4 linked regions of the Homo sapiens genome follow. The protein of the gene in region 1 purifies or fractionates together with the protein of each later gene. This does not show direct contact. Each region holds a gene or a part of one and is shown in the gene's direction. Other genes may lie near its edges.

Region 1 (4,908 bases):
AGGTGATCCGCCTGCCTTGGCCTCCCAAAGTGCTGGGATTGCAGGCATGAGCCACCGTGGCTGGCCCCACCCCCTTTTTTTAAGTGAGGAGAAAATGAATCATTTATTTTTGATTGACTCACATTGTTGCTGTGTATTCTCAGTAGGACATTTGTCTTCAGTTTTGTTCTTTCTTGTGTACTGATGTGGAATTAAATATATAGGAGTTCATTTTGCACCTACAGGAAAAGTTTACTGCTAAACTCTTGAGTCAGCTCTACAAAATTTCCATGAATATCCAGACTTCTTTGCATGAGTCTAAGGAATCTAAACCTAACATTGCTATATTGAATTTATTCAGTTAGCCAGGCACAGTGGCTCATGCCCATAATCCCAGCACTTTGGGAGGCCTAGCCAGGAGAATATCTTGAGGCCAGGAGTTCAAGACCAGCCTGAGCAACATAATAAGCCTCTCATCTTTATGGAGAAAAAAAAGAAGAGAAAAAAAGAAAAGAAAAAAATCTATTCAGTTATGACTGACTGGACAACATTAAAAAGTCAACACTTTGCTGGTTCCGTGATTTCTTGGTGGTATTGACTTTGACCAAATTTCCTGCTAATTTAGATAAAGGTGTAGATATAACTTAAATAGTATTTGGATTTCTTTGACACCTTGAAACAAAATGACAACCATTTTCAAATATGCTTAACTAATTTTTAAAAGACTTTGTTTATAACAGACATCATGAGTAAATGGCTTACATAACTAACTCTCAATTTGCCCAAGACTGCGGGCATTCATGGATGTAGGACTTTTTAATATTGAACTGGCCACTCTGGCCTGATTAATTATCTGAAATAAAACTTCCTGTGAATTTTAGGAGCTATTTCCAGTCTACTGAGTATTGCTTTAAAGAGTACTGTCCCTCACTTGCTCTTTTACCATAATCTGTTGCTCTGGTAATATGAATTGTCTTTAAAGAGAATCATTTAAAAATACCATTGAGAGATTAATGAATTAAGAATGGTTGGTATTTCTTCCCTTATGGGAAGAAAGAAAATATTTGACACTTATGGTTCAATTCTTTTTTTTACAGGTATGTTGAGTCGATGGGATGATAGCCAGAGATTTTTGTCTGACCATCCATACCTTGTATGTGAAGAAACTGCTAAATATCTTATTTTATGGTGTTTTCACCTGGAAGCTGAGAAGGTATTATTATGTGAACCTTGAGTTTCTGGGAACCTTAGTGGAAATCTGATTTCATACTTTATTGATGTTTTGTTTTGTTTTCTACATTAAGTCCTTTAAAAGAAAGCAGGAAGGTCATTAGATGGAATTACCATTTTTTGCTTCCAGATCTACTTGAGTTTAATGTGGGATTTTGTTGTTGTTGTTGTTTCAGTTAGCATACAGAAACTTTTCCACTATGCTTTCTCTGCCACTCCACCTCCATCTCTCTTGTTTTCATATTACTATAATCCTTTTCAAACTAATTTGAAAGTCGTATTTTAAAAATCCAGACGGTAATCATGGTATTAAATCAAGTTCAGAGCATGGTCTTCCTTTAGTTATTCTGGTCCACATACAAATAATAAAAAAAAAACTAAGATATACTCTTTATATGTTTGTAAAGTATTTGACTTATAACTTAAGAGAGTAAAATCAAAAGTATTTTAAAAATTCAAAATTTGAATCAGTATGCCAATTAAATATATTTATATATTTGTTTCTTATATCATTTAAATCTTTTTCAGAAAGGGGCTTTAATGGAACAAATAGCACATCAAGCTGTTGTAATGCAGTTTATTATGGAAATGGCCAAAAACTGTAATGTGGATCCAAGAGGGTGTTTTCGTTTATTTTTCCAGAAAGCCAAAGTAAGTAGTTATTTGATATTGATAAATGGGAAGATTTGGTCCCAGCTGAGACCTCTTTGTTCTGTTCATATCAATAGAAGGCATCCAAGCAGGATGCCACAGGCTAAATTCTGTAGATTTTCTTGTGAAAAGAAAATTTATATTGCTAATTTCTTGCTAATTTAAACTTAAAAGAGCTATATAAGAGGCTGTACTACAGCATGTATATGAAATTGAGACCCATTTAAATGAATGTGTGTATTCAGGAAACTTACGTTCCATCATTAATTCATTCAGTAAATACTGAGTGCCTAATGCAAAGCACAGCTGTTTCAGATGCTCAGGATGCATTATTGAGCAAAATAGATACAGGATTCTTCATGTGTAGAACTCAGCAGTTTAATGAGAAATCAGACTTTTATAAAGAAAAAATAGGAAGCAACCTAAAAATTCAGCAATTAAGGGAATAGTTAAAAATACCCATGGTACATAGAATATCATGCACCCTTTAAAATTATATTTATGGAACTTTTGTAATGAGCTGAAGAAATGCTTACGCTATGAATTCACAGGAAGCAGTACATACTAGATGATGTTGGCTATGTTGAAGAAAAATAGATGTCTAGAAAGATTAAGTACCTTTCACACTCACAAGATTTGCAGTAATTTAAAAGCTGCCCAAGAAGTAGGGCAATAAGAATTTGCGTTCACTGCTAGTGGAAGTATAAATTGGAACAACCACTTTAAAAAATTTCCTAGTAAAGTTGAACAAGTGCCTGCCTTAACACCCAGAAATTCTCCTAGGTGTATGCATCCTAGAGAGTAGATTCTCAAGGTGGGGTCCAGGAACCCGGAGGGGCTTCAAGACCTTTTCAGGAGGTTCTCTGTCGAAACTATTTTCATAATAATACCAAGATGTTATTTTTAATTTTCATTTTCATTCCTCAGTAGTGTACAATAGAGATTAATGCGGAAGTACAAATATGAGAATCTAGCCATCTTCTGTAAAGTCAGACATTAGATTTAGAAAAATTAAAGGAAAAAGCAGCTCTCTTCTCACTAAATTTTTTTGTTTTGGAAAACTTTTTTTTTAAATAAAAATGTTATTAATGGTAGTGTAATGAGTTTGTCATTGTTATTTTTAGTTAATGTTTTAAAAATTCCTCAGTTTTCATTTCTAACAGTAAATACTGACAGATACAACTCACATAAACAGAAGCTCTTTAGGGTCCTCAATAATTTTGAAGACTGTAAAGAGAACTGCTGCGCTAGAGAAACTCTTACACATATGTACTAGATTGCCGTAATGTTCATAGTAGATTGTAATAGCTAAAAGCCTGGAAACAATAAATAAATTGTGGTGTAGGTTGAGTATTCCTAATCCAAAATCCAAAACGCTCCAAAATCCAAAACTGTTTGAGCATCGACATGACACTCAAGGGAAATACTCACAGATTTTGTGTTTTCAATTTAGAGATCTTCACTGGTAAGTATAATGCAAATATTCCCAGATCTGAAAAAACTGACAATCTGAAAAACTTCTGGTGCCAAGCATTTCAGATATTCAACCTGTATATTCATTCTGTAAAATACTAGCCAACATCAGCATGGATGGAAAAACAAGAGAGTGAATCAAACAAACCACAGAGTGATGTATCTGTTTAGATAGATGCTAAATGGATATATCTAGTATCAATGTTCGTATTTTGTATTTTTTTATAAAGTATTTTTTTAGTGACAGGCAGAACTAAATAATATATTGTTGAAGGATACATATATAAGCAGTAAAACTAAAAAGCAAAGGAATAATTAAGAAGACAAAAGTTACAATAATGATAACCTCAGGGAGGGAGGGGGAATGCTCTTGGGAACTGGTTTCTAGGATCCTAGTAATGATCCATATCCTAATTTCTATGGGTAAATAGTGGGGGTTTTGCTGAATAAACTGTGCGCATATCTTTTACATGCTCTTCTGCACATAGGATATATTTGAACATATACAATTAGAAGTTAAAAGGAAGTATACCAAAAGTTTAACTTTGGTTATACTTGTGTGGTGAAATTATAAATAATTTCCGTTTTCTTTTTCATGTACTACAATGAACATTTCCTATTATAAACATAAAATTATATTTTTATATTAAAAAAAAACTCTCAATGTGGCAGTAGTCCTAACTTAAATACCCTAAACTCTTCTGAAATGCAACCAAAATATGAAATTTTCCTGAAACAGTTGAACTTTAATAGCAAATGCTTGACTTGATATTTTAGCTAGGCTGCTTCTGGTGACTAGTCTAAACTTTTGTTTGTTTTTAGAGATAAGGTCCTGCTCTGTCACTCAGGCTAGAGTGCAGTGGTGCAATCATTGCTCACTGCAGCCTTGAACTTCTGGGCTCAAGCAATCCTCCTGCCTCAGATTCCCAGGTAGCTGGGACTATAGGCACATGCCACCATCCCCAGCTAATTTTTTGTAGAGACACGGTCTCACTGTGTTGCCCAGGCTGGTCTCGAACTTCTGGGCTCAAGCTGTCCTCCTGCCTTAACCTTCCAAAATACTGGGATTACAGACATGAGCCACCACACCCGGTCTCTTCTAAATTTTTACTTGACACTTAAGAGTAGTAAAAAACATACTTTCCTTTTTATCTTACATTAATGGATGTGTTTAAACTGGTGTTTAATAAAATAATGGAATGTGGCCAAATCATATATATTGTTTGACATTTACTTTACCAAAGTAAAACGGAAAGGCACTGGTCTTCAATCTTAACATTGTATGCTTAATAATACTTTTTTTTAAATTATGAAATAATCACTTTCATGGTATGCTTACTTTGTTCCAGGGACTATTCTAAGCACTTTACATGTATTAACTCATTAAATTCATATAACATTTTATGAGGATTACTGTTGCTATCTTATGGGTGAAGAAATTGGCATAAAGAAATTAAGTAAGTGGCCCACAAATTACTTAATAATACAAAATCTGTCATCACTCTATATCTAAATCCCTAAACCTTAAGCATGCAATGAGGACAGCAATTGTGCCTCTTAATTTTCAGAAAGAAT
Region 2 (3,500 bases), on another chromosome or scaffold:
TTTTACTGGGTAGATACTGCTGAAGGAAATACAGGGTGCAGATAGTTCAGCTGGTCAATAATCCATGATTCAGGTTGGATAGGGAAAGAAGGGGGGTTAGGAGGGAATGCCTAGGTAGGTCAAAATGTAGGAATCACAGGACTGGAGAAGTCAGAAGTAGAAAAGCAGATTGCTAGGAGAGACAGGATGACAGATTTTGGTCAGAAAATGGGATATTGGAGTTTAAAGTATCAAATACAGAATAGTTCCAGATGTTCAGAGATCCAGCATGGGATTAGGTACTGAAATGGATTAGAACTAAAAGTCACTAGAATTTAGAAATTGAGAACCATGAGAGTGGATGCAATGACTTGTTGCTTGATTGAAAAATAAATTAATAATAATAAAGGACCATGAGACTAGCCTGTTATAGGGGTTATCTCCATGAACATTGAATTTTCCCAGGATCATAGCAGGAATTGGGTAGAGAAAAAGATTATGAGAAGGTGCCAGAGTCTTCAGTGAATGTCAGGAAATTACCAGGAAGTCAGCATATGACAGAGAAAAGGACAGTATGTTATCTGCATCAAAGGAAAATGTGCTTTTGTTGAAAAGTACAGAAAAAGCCAATACTACAATACTGTGCTAAGCCCCTACCTGTACTCCTCTACCCAACAGCTGCATTCCAGGCCCTGTGGTATAAAAGGTGTGAGAATGAGCATCTCCCACCAGAAATCAGACAGGTTTAGTTAAAGCAGTGAGGCAGAACAAGCATCCTATGAAGAGACTGAGGATGTAGGTGAGTGGTTCTAAAATCTCAGTAGAAGGAACATTGCAAGTAGAAAGAGCCAGCAGTAAGGATGCACGTAGCAGTCTAGAAGTAGAGGTGAGACCAGCTTGGAGATGAAATGAGGAGATGTCTTCTGTTCTGTGCTGGAGAAGTACTGGTAAGTGTGGTGTGGTTGGGATTCACAGGCCTCAGCCATCCTCACTTTGGTACAAGTTATTTTGGTACAGAACTACTAGAATGTCCCAAAGGCTGTAGTACAGGAACATTTCTGAAAGGACAAAAGCTGCCATGAATATTGAGAAATTGTATGGTGCCAGGTACAGCCTGGATCTGAGCAAGACTGCTGGATGGTGTGTGGATAGATAGTGAAGGCCCAGATTTGGGAACAGATTGGATCTCAGATATCCAGAGCAGCACTGTAGAATCTAGTTGCATATAATAATGTTTTAAAAAGGGTATCTTAGGCTGGGCACGGTAGCTCCCGCTTGTAGGCCCAGGCCTTTGGGAGGCCAAGGTGGGCAGATCACTTAAGCCCAGGAGTTCAAGACCAGCCTGGGCTGCATGGCGAAACCCCATCTCTATAAAAAATAAAAAAAATAAAAAAAAAATAGCGGGCATGGTGGCATGTACCAGTAGTCCTAGCTACTCAGGAGACTGAGGAGGGTGGATTGCTTGAGCCTGGGGAAGTCAAGGCTGCAGTAAGCCATGATCATGCCACTACACTCCAGCCTGAGTGACAGAGTGAGACCTTGTCGCCAAAAAAAAAAAAAAAAAAAACAGGGCTACCTTACTCTGGAAAAAACACATGTAGCATTGGCTGAATAAAGAAATGGAGCTTCATGATTAAGGACATTTGGAATCAGAGTGCAATAAACTTTTTGTCTTGTAGCTATAACCAGAATGCATGGCTTTGAAAATCACTGCAGCAGTATATATTTAGCATCTGGTCGCTGAATAGCAGTCTCTTGTGACTGAGGATGATTTTCCATGGTTCCTTTTTGTATTCTGAAATGACTAATGGAACCATCTGGGATCAGCAGATTTTAAGTCCCTGAAGGCTGGAAAAGACTTATACTTGGCTTTATAATTCCCCACAAAGTCAGGCCCAGCACCTTGCACTTAAGTGTTTATTGAATAAAAGAGTGACTTGTGTGGAAGTTATTCATTCTGCTTTAGCTGTTTTTGTCATTCATTCCCTTTTAACTCTTGTAGTTTGTTGTGACTTTAACTTTCTTACGCTTTTTTTGTGGAGCTGCTCGATAAATATTTGACATAGGTATTATGTCATTTTATGGCTCATCCAGTGTCACACAAGTAGTAAATGGTAGAGCCAAAACTCAAAATCAATGTCAGTGGATTCTGAAGGTAGGTGCTTTCTGGTACGCTAGAATTAGTACCAGTATAAGAGGCATAGGAGTGATCTTGTTTCCTGAGCGGAAAGCTTTATTTAGCCCTGTGGTCCTACCCACTCATGCAAGGATGCTTCTCTTTCTCGTCTCACATGAGAACCCTGATGACTGAGAGATCAACAGTGTTTCCTCAGGCCCAGCTGCCCTGCCCAGCGTTCCTGCATCCCACTCTCTACAGGCACAATGTTAGTGGAGCATTGTTCCTAGAGTATTCTTCATCTTAGTTGCTTTACCCTTGCTTCATATATTTGTATGTCTCACGTTTCAGATTGCTCTCAAATATCCCTGAAGCACTTTTTTAAAAAAAATTGTGGTGAAATATACATAAAATTCATCATTTTAAACTTTTTAAACTATGATTCTGAATTAATTTAGAATACTTCTGATGTATAAAATGCTATGTAAAATACGATTTTGCTGTTGGCTTCTGTATTAGTTTTTCATTGCTGTATAACAAATTCCTGCAAACTTAGCAGTTTAAAACAGCATACCTTTGTTATCTCACAGTTTCTATGGATCAGGAGTCCAGCCACAGCTTAATTGGGTCCTCTGCTCAGGGTCTCATTGGGCTACAGGCCAGTTGTTGACTGGGTCTGTAGTCTTATCAGAAGCTTAACTGGGGAAAGATCCACTTTCAGGTTTCCTCCGCTGGCAGAATTCATTTCCTCTAAGCTGTAGGACTGAGGTCCCCATTTTCTTGCTGGCTGTCAGCCAGGGACCACATTTAGCTTCTAGGAGCTGCCTGTAGTTGGTCCCTTGCCATGTAGTTCTGTCCATGAGCCTTCTCATAACATGGCAGCTTAGTTCTTTAAAGCCAGCAAGGGAGAGAGTCAGAGAGCAAAGTTTCTGACTCTCAGGGAAGGCCTGGACCCCCTTTAAAAATATACCTGATTAAGTTAGGGCCACCCAACTCAAAATCTACTGATTTGGGACCTTAATTACATCTGCAAAAACCCCTTCACTTTTGTCATATAATCTAATCATGGGAGTGACATCTTGGCGCATTCTGTTGGTTGAAAGCAAGTCTCATAGGTCCCACTCACGCTCAAAGGGAGTGATTACACCTCCCCTTGGTGAGAATGTGGAGTTTGAATACACGGGGTGGGGGGCATTTTAGAGTCTGTGTGCTATGGTTTCCTTTTTTATCCATTTCATAGGGTTTTTTATCAGCAATTGGACACCCTTTCCCCAAAATGATTTTTAATCATGGAAGGAAAAAGAGAACTTGGAATTACCTTGAATTTGAAGAAGAAGAAAATAAACAGTTAGCAGACTCAATGGCTTCTCTGGCATATCTAGTATTTGTACAGGGCATCCATATT
Region 3 (3,500 bases), on another chromosome or scaffold:
GTTCAAGACCAGCTTGGCCAACATAGTGAAACCCTGTCTCTACCAGGCGTGGTGGCGAGTGCCTGTAATCCCAGCTACTCAGGAGGCTGAGGCTGAGGCAGGAGAATTGCTTGAACCCAGGAGGTGGAGTTGCAGTGAGCGGAGATCGCTCCACTGCACTCCAGGCTGGGCAACAGAGCAGGACTCTGTCTCAAAAAAAAATACGTAAATAAAGATCATGGTGGCCACAGTGAAGGACTTGAGCCTCTGCGATTCCTGAGGGTAAGGACTGCCTTAGAAGAATGTCTAATAATTCTCCCCATGGGGTAGCTTAAGACTTTTTCCTGATTAAGTTCTCTGTACTCCCATCACACCCAGCTCAATTATCATTTCCCTGACAAAGTCCTCCCTGGCTTGACCAGGTAAAACTAGTCTCATGTCTTTCATGGGTGTTTTGTGCCCCTACAACTTTTGGTCAATCCATTTATCATACGTTTATCATCTTGTTCCCTCCCTCCCTCCCTTTCTTTTCTTTTTTTTTTTTTCTTTCTTTCTTGGATTTAAATGCTTTTTGTAATAAAATACACACCTATCCATCCATTTATCCACCCAAACCCAAGTAGTTACAGCATGGATTTCTTTGAGGCAGAAGCTAGCTATTTCTTGTTTATCTTTTGTCTGTTATCAAGTTCAGTGCTGGAATGAGTGAATGAGGAAATACTTGGTTCCCTTTGAATGGCAAAAAGCGCAGTGTCCTTCTGTCACATAAGAATGACAAACACGCCAGCCCAGCAGACCAACAAGCCTGAACAGGTTATAGTTATCTCTACTGCCTTAACACAAGGCCCAAAGAGCTCTGAGTTTGAAATGTATCCTAATGCCCTGAGGCACCCATTTTCCAAACTGATCATCTTCCCCACTCTATCTGGGCAGGTTCTTCAGACCCAGAAGAAGAAAGTGTTCTCTACTCCAACCGAGCAGCATGTCACTTGAAGGATGGAAACTGCAGAGACTGCATCAAAGATTGCACTTCGTAAGTGGCCAAGGGTAATTTTGGGATGCCTGAGGGTCTCAGAAGAGGAGGCTGGGTTAATCTGGCTTGTTTCTTCTTTGGAAGGATCCCATCAATTACATCTGGGACAGATATTAAGAAAGTGTCACTGAGTTTCACCAGGTCACTGAGAATGGGAGTCTTTATTTGGTCCTTATGGCCCGTGACTTGCATCTTTGGAGTCTTGGCTCTGCTGCCGAAAAAGGAGTGGGATGGGCAGTTAGAAGCAGGCCGTAAAGTCTTTGTGCAATTTGAAACCTGGGAATAAGGTGGAGTGGCAGACCAGTAACTGGCTTGCCCAGGTGCTTTTCTGGGATGGGAGTATGTGAGGGGAAGGGAGCGAAGGAAAGAAGGAGGAATAGAGGTTAATAGATTGTCTCAGAAGGAGAAAGGAAAAAAATGGTATTCATGAATGACCAGTTTTAGAGGACACTGAACAATGTTTCATATCTCTTTTTCTTCAAGCCAGTCTAATATTCTTTTATCATCATTAAACTCTCACATTTACCTGAAATGTGTTCTCAGATCTGATGTCCTCTGACATTGCTTTAGATTCCTGCCCTGGTGATAGCCAGGAGAGCAGGAGGGGTGTGAGCATACTCACAGAGCCTGTGCTGAATTAATTTGTGCCATGCCTTGTGCCAGATTTCCCTCTTTGAGTGTTCACAACCAATCTGTGGGGTACGGTTACCATGTGTCCCAGGCCAGAACTTGGTTGCTGAGGGTTGGGGCAGTAAAGTGATTTACCTGGGTCACATAGTTAGCAGCAGAGGTGGAATTCAGACACCACCCCATCTGACTCCAAAGCTTGTTTGTTATTCCCACTAGACCACAACTGTAAAAAAACATAGTAGCATGAAAGCCATGAGGCTTTTGTTCTTGATTTTGGGGGAACTGAAACTATGAAAATTGATGCATGTGCACACACATTTAACAAAATTCATGTTTCTCTGCCTTCTTTCTCCTCCTCACTTCAGTCTACGTTGAAAAATCCCTGTTCTGAGGTTTGGCGTTTTTAGCCATGTCTCTCGGCCAGAAATTACTTCCTGTACGCTGAGTGCTCCAGATAACCCTGCCTGGAAGAAACTGTAGGGAAACCCTGGTGGCTCAGCAGCCAGCCAGTTGACATTTTTGCCTCCTATTCTAGAGCACTGGCCTTGGTTCCCTTCAGCATTAAGCCCCTGCTGCGGCGAGCATCTGCTTATGAGGCTCTGGAGAAGTACCCTATGGCCTATGTTGACTATAAGACTGTGCTGCAGATTGATGATAATGTGACGTCAGCCGTAGAAGGCATCAACAGGTGAGCTCCATTCCCAGCAGGTGGTCTCCACGGCAACTCCCTGTCCTTCTTGATTGGCTGCGGGCCATTGCCTTGTCTGTCTTCTGAGGGGATCCCTTTGGCTACACTTAAAAAACTCCCGATGGGCATGTAGGGGAAGCTGAGAAAGGAAAATCTGCTTTTTTATTTAGCAGGTTTTCAGGGAGTCAATTACTAAGATTGATTGATTGATATTTGCCTACATGTGCCTCACAGTATCTATGTACACAGTAATATTTATTGTACACTGTTTAAGGTGTTGTGCCCGGTTCAGTGGGGGATACCAAAATGAGAAAGAGATACAGACCCCACTTACCTTCAAAGCGCTAACGCTAATTAGAAGAATAAGACACAAGCCCAAGCAGCTATGACAAGCCTAAAAGGATATGGTTTGTGGACATGGTTCAGTATATTGCACTGTGACCAATCCAAGAGGTTCCCCAGGTGCAATTCCTTTCTGGTCTCTGAGCAGTTATTGGCTTTTATCTCATGGATATTGTCATTTGTATAACTGATCATGTTTCCCCTCTGCGTGTGCGGCTAGAAAGCCAAACACTGCACTAATAGCAAACCCTTAACAGGGACTTCATGGTATGTATTTAGTGCTTTATTTCTGGCTTGACTTGTCTGCCAGCATTCTTTGTTTTCTCTTTGCCTCCTTTTTAACTTATCTGATTCCACAAAATCTACCAATTATGTGACAGACTTTGCTCTAGGACCTGGGCTGATGACTGAGACATACCTCTTCCTGCCGTCATAGAGGTCCCGGTCTCAAGGAAGACACCAGTCAGTAATAGGCAAGCACAATACAACATGATAAGCGCCATGGTAGGAGGCAGCACAGGGGGCTCTGAGGCCAGAAAGGAGCCACCTAGCTAGCTGAGAGGGAGAGGGGGAGGCCAGAGAGAGCTTTTCAGAGGAGGTGAGCTAAGAATGAGAGATATGGGGTAGGGGGTTAGCCAGAAGACAGAGCAGCGTGTGCAAAGGTGAGCAAGTGTGACAGATCACAGGAATTGTAAGAAGTCGGTTTCACATGGTGCTGCAGGCAGGAGCTCAGCTTGGGACAGGTTGGTGAGGCCAAGTCACACAAGACCCAGGGTTCAGGGCTTGGACTTAATCCTGAGCAAGTCAGCCTTTATGAAAAGGTCTTTA
Region 4 (3,934 bases), on another chromosome or scaffold:
CCTGGACACACCTCTTAACACTTGCAGTACCCAGCATGGCGGGCCTGTGCACACCTCCATGCCTCTCTCCACATATGAGCTCCCACTGCCTAAAACGCTGAGTCCTCTATCCATCTGCAGAGACCTTCCTCAGCTCTGATCTCAGCTCTGCATCACCTTGAATCCCACCCCTCTGAGCCTTCACTGAGCAGACCTGTGACCCAATGCCAGTTTAGATTGGTGTGCTTCCTGTCTGCTTTTCATTCCAGACCAGGCTAGGAGCTCCCCAAGGCTGTAGCCCCGGTGCAGGGACCTGCAGCCATTTGCTGGCCGGTAGAGAGGCTGCAGGAAGCCACAGCGGCTGCCTAACCAGGCCTGCAGCACCTGGACCGAAGACCCTTTTCCATCTGAACTGTGGGAGTTAGGGGTGGCTAAGCTCAGAGACAGAGGTCTGATCAGTCTCTCCTTTCCTCGAAACTCTCCAAAAGGTCCCATACCACTGAGGAAATAGCCAAATCCTCATAGTCACAGCCCTTTTGTCCTCCCACCTCATCATCTCCTTGCCCCCTTCCTCACTCTGCTTCAGCCCCACTGGCCTCCTTGCTGTTCCCCAAGCACAGAAGACTCTCCCGCATCAGGCTTCCGGACTGTTCCCTGTTCCTTCCATGGGAATGCCTTTCCCAGACCCCTCCTAGTCACTCCCAGGCCTCTGGCAGAATGTCTACCCATCCTGTTTAAAACTTTTCCCCAATAGCTCTTGCTACCCCTGACAAACTCTTACATCTCAACTATTGTCGTTTCCTCCCCACTGCCTTAGCAACTCCTAGAGGGCAGAGATTTCATCTGCTCTGCCCACCGCTATATAGCCAGCCACTAGAACAGGCCGGAAGCGCAGAAAGAGCTAAGTAAGTATGTGTTGACTGACTGACGAACAAATGAATGAAGTGAGATGGGGGCTTTGGGGATTCGGGTTCACGCACCACCCCAAAAGCATTCGAAGGCCGGGCGAGGCCAGGCACTGCCGAGGAGGGCGGGCCGGGGGAGGAGCGTATTGGCCACGCCCGGCCACGCCCCCAGGCCGGCGGAACCCAAGGCGCGGGGACCTGCGCTGCCGGGAGGATTGAGGGAAGGGAACCCGCGCCGCCGGAAGGAGCCGCTCGCTTCACGGCGCTGGGACCCGGGCTGGAAGGCAGGGCATCAGCTATGGAACAACCTGGGCAGGATCCCACCTCAGACGACGTCATGGACTCGTTCCTGGAAAAGTTCCAGAGCCAGCCTTACCGTGGCGGCTTTCATGAGGACCAGTGGGAGAAGGTGGGCGGTCCTGGGGTCTCCCCACGTGTGTAGGGGCGTCGTCCGGACTCGTGGGGCACCCGGGCTCTGGGGCACCTCCTTCAATCCCAGATCCCTGGCGCTGCCAGCCGATCGCTGGTTTCTAGTTGAGTATTGAAAATCGGCCTCGAGGTTTTGAGTCGCTTCTTAAGCTGAGAACCTAGGTTTTGGAGTCAGGCCTGTGACTCCACCACTTAACTGGCTCTGATATGAGTCAGTTACTTAACTTCTCAGAGTCCGTTTCCTCATCTGTAAAACTGCGCGAACTATATCACCAATAGCAAAGATGAAATGAGACAGTTGGTAAAGTGCCAAGAACATAAGGGCGCTCAATTAATGGTAATTCCTGCCGCTCTTGTAGAATGTGAGAACTAAAACAATCATTAGAGACCATTACACCACACTCCCATTTTACAGAAGGGAAGCGGAGGCCTGAATGGATACAGCTAGCTGTGATGATTTGCAAATCATGATGAGTAAAAAAACTTTGGTAATGAGTCATGGAATTGGATCTGCTCAGTAGAAAAGCTTATTCATGTAGTTCATTCTTAACCATTTACAGGAATTTGAAAAGGTCCCCCTATTTATGTCGAGAGCGCCATCAGAAATTGATCCCAGGGAGAATCCTGACTTGGCTTGTCTCCAGTCAATTATTTTTGATGAGGAGCGTTCTCCAGAAGGTATCTTAACATGACTAATATTTGTTTTGTGTTTCCATTGAACTGAAATTAAGTGTGGGTTAGAAGCGTTCTGATTGATAACAAGAAGTAGTTAGCCTGAGCTAACTTGTCATTATTCATTCCAATATACTTCTTTTTGTACCTACTAAGTGGTAAGGACTGGGGATACAGGGGTGAATAAGACACAGTTCCACCCTCCAAGGTCAGGCTCAGTGAGAAGCCTTTTGTCTTAAAGAATCAAGACAAACTTATGCTATAAGTGTCAACATGTAGGTGTATACTACAGCTGTAGTGGGTCCTGTTGGAACACTTTAAGGAGCAGGAGTGGATTCACAATAGATAGGAAATTTGAGCTGAATCTTTGTAATTTTGTAGGCTTTTACTAGGGTGAGGAGGGGAATTTGCACTCCACAGAATAAACAACATAAGCAAAAGCAGAAGTATAATCAATCCCCCTGCCCCTCACTGATTTCTTCAGTGATTAAAAAAAATTCTTTTCTTCAACAGCTAGGATGAGTGTACTTTTTTCCTTTATACTTCTTTTTTTTGGAAAGCACTTAGTAATCTACCTTGTAAGATATTTGGAATTAGCATTACATTTGTGCGACTTTGTCCATGTTGATACCCACTTTTATCATAACATCGAGTTTCCTTTCCCTATTGGTTTCTTCGCTTTGGTGTGTCATATAGTACATTATTACATGATTTAGAATCTATTTTTAATGAGCCTTTTAAAAAGTAAGCAATAGTGATTATTTTTCCTCTTCTTTGCAGAACAGGCCAAGACCTATAAAGATGAGGGCAATGATTACTTTAAAGAAAAAGACTACAAGAAAGCTGTAATTTCATACACTGAAGGCTTAAAGAAGAAATGTGCAGATCCTGATTTGAATGCTGTCCTTTATACCAACCGGGCAGCAGCACAGTACTATCTGGGTAATTTATAAGTGCTTTCTGAAGAATAAACTTATGATACAAGCCATTATGATGGTTAGTGGAGGTTTGAGAACATCAGAGGATGAGGGGCTGTTATCCCAGAAACCCAGACTAAGGATAGTTTACTCTGATTGAACTCTGGTCTTCCAAGTTGACATGATGAAAAGAGAAACAGGATGGATTGTGTAATTCTTACTGTCTCAACCCAAAAAGTGACTTGGTCACTCAAGTAAGGTGTTTGATGTATGAGGCAGTATGTTCTGAGATTTTTGAGCCCAAGGGCTTCTACTCTCTCAAAAAATGTGTTTTTCTGGCCTTTTATCCTCTTTTCAAGGATGCTAGCAGGAGTAAGGCAGTAGAGATCTTTAGGTGAGATAAGCTATTTTAATCTAAGGGAGAATATCTCAAAGCGTTCTGTGGGACCTTTGAGTTAAAAATATTTTTTGGTTGGGTGCAGTGGCTCATACCTGTAATCCAAGCACTTTGGGAGGCTGAGACAGGAGGATCGCCTGAGGCCAGGAGTTCAAGACCAACCTGGGCAATATAGTGAGACCCTGTCTCTCCAAAAATTTAGCTGGGCATGGTGGTGCCTGCCTGTAGTCCTAGCTACTTGGGAGGCTGAGGCACGAGGATCGCTCAAGGCTACAGGGAGCCATAATCACACCACTGCACTCCAGCCTGGGTGACAAAGTGAGACCCTGTTTCTAAAAAGTTGCTTGGATGAGGAATTTTAACTCATTTATTTATTCATATTTTTTACTTTATTACATTTTTTTGTAGAGACAGGGTTTTGCCATGTTGCCCGGGCTGGTCTCGAAATTGGGCTCAAGTGATCCATCCGCCTCAGCCTCCCAAAGTATTGGAATTACAGGTGTGAGCCACCGCACCCAGGAGATTGAGGAAGTTTGGAAAATGCTGCTTCTTAGAGATTTACAGTACATGTTAACATGTTAAAGACACTGAGATAGCCTGCAAGAAAATAAATTTACCCTGGGTTTCTCAAATTT

The links.
Region 2: the proteins of CDC37L1 (region 1) and GLMN purify together in Homo sapiens (affinity purification with mass spectrometry; one study listed by BioGRID and IntAct). This does not show direct contact.
Region 3: the proteins of CDC37L1 (region 1) and TOMM34 purify together in Homo sapiens (affinity purification with mass spectrometry; one study listed by BioGRID and IntAct). This does not show direct contact.
Region 4: the proteins of CDC37L1 (region 1) and TTC4 purify together in Homo sapiens (affinity purification with mass spectrometry; one study listed by BioGRID and IntAct). This does not show direct contact.

The regions. Positions count from the first base shown.
Region 1 is NC_000009.12:4,696,020-4,700,927, forward strand, and holds part of CDC37L1 (hsp90 co-chaperone Cdc37-like 1), read left to right. Parts: exon of another isoform or gene 1-1,076; coding exon 1,077-1,192; intron 1,193-1,737; coding exon 1,738-1,860; intron 1,861-4,908. UniProt on the Homo sapiens protein: Co-chaperone that binds to numerous proteins and promotes their interaction with Hsp70 and Hsp90.
Region 2 is NC_000001.11:92,271,488-92,274,987, reverse strand, and holds part of GLMN (glomulin), read left to right. Parts: intron 1-3,335; coding exon 3,336-3,500.
Region 3 is NC_000020.11:44,953,898-44,957,397, reverse strand, and holds part of TOMM34 (mitochondrial import receptor subunit TOM34), read left to right. Parts: intron 1-912; coding exon 913-1,012; intron 1,013-1,777; exon of another isoform or gene 1,778-2,177; coding exon 2,178-2,330; intron 2,331-3,500. UniProt on the Homo sapiens protein: Plays a role in the import of cytosolically synthesized preproteins into mitochondria. Binds the mature portion of precursor proteins. Interacts with cellular components, and possesses weak ATPase activity.
Region 4 is NC_000001.11:54,714,727-54,718,660, forward strand, and holds the start of TTC4 (tetratricopeptide repeat protein 4), read left to right. Parts: upstream 1-1,134; 5' UTR 1,135-1,182; coding exon 1,183-1,293; intron 1,294-1,873; coding exon 1,874-1,991; intron 1,992-2,765; coding exon 2,766-2,927; intron 2,928-3,934.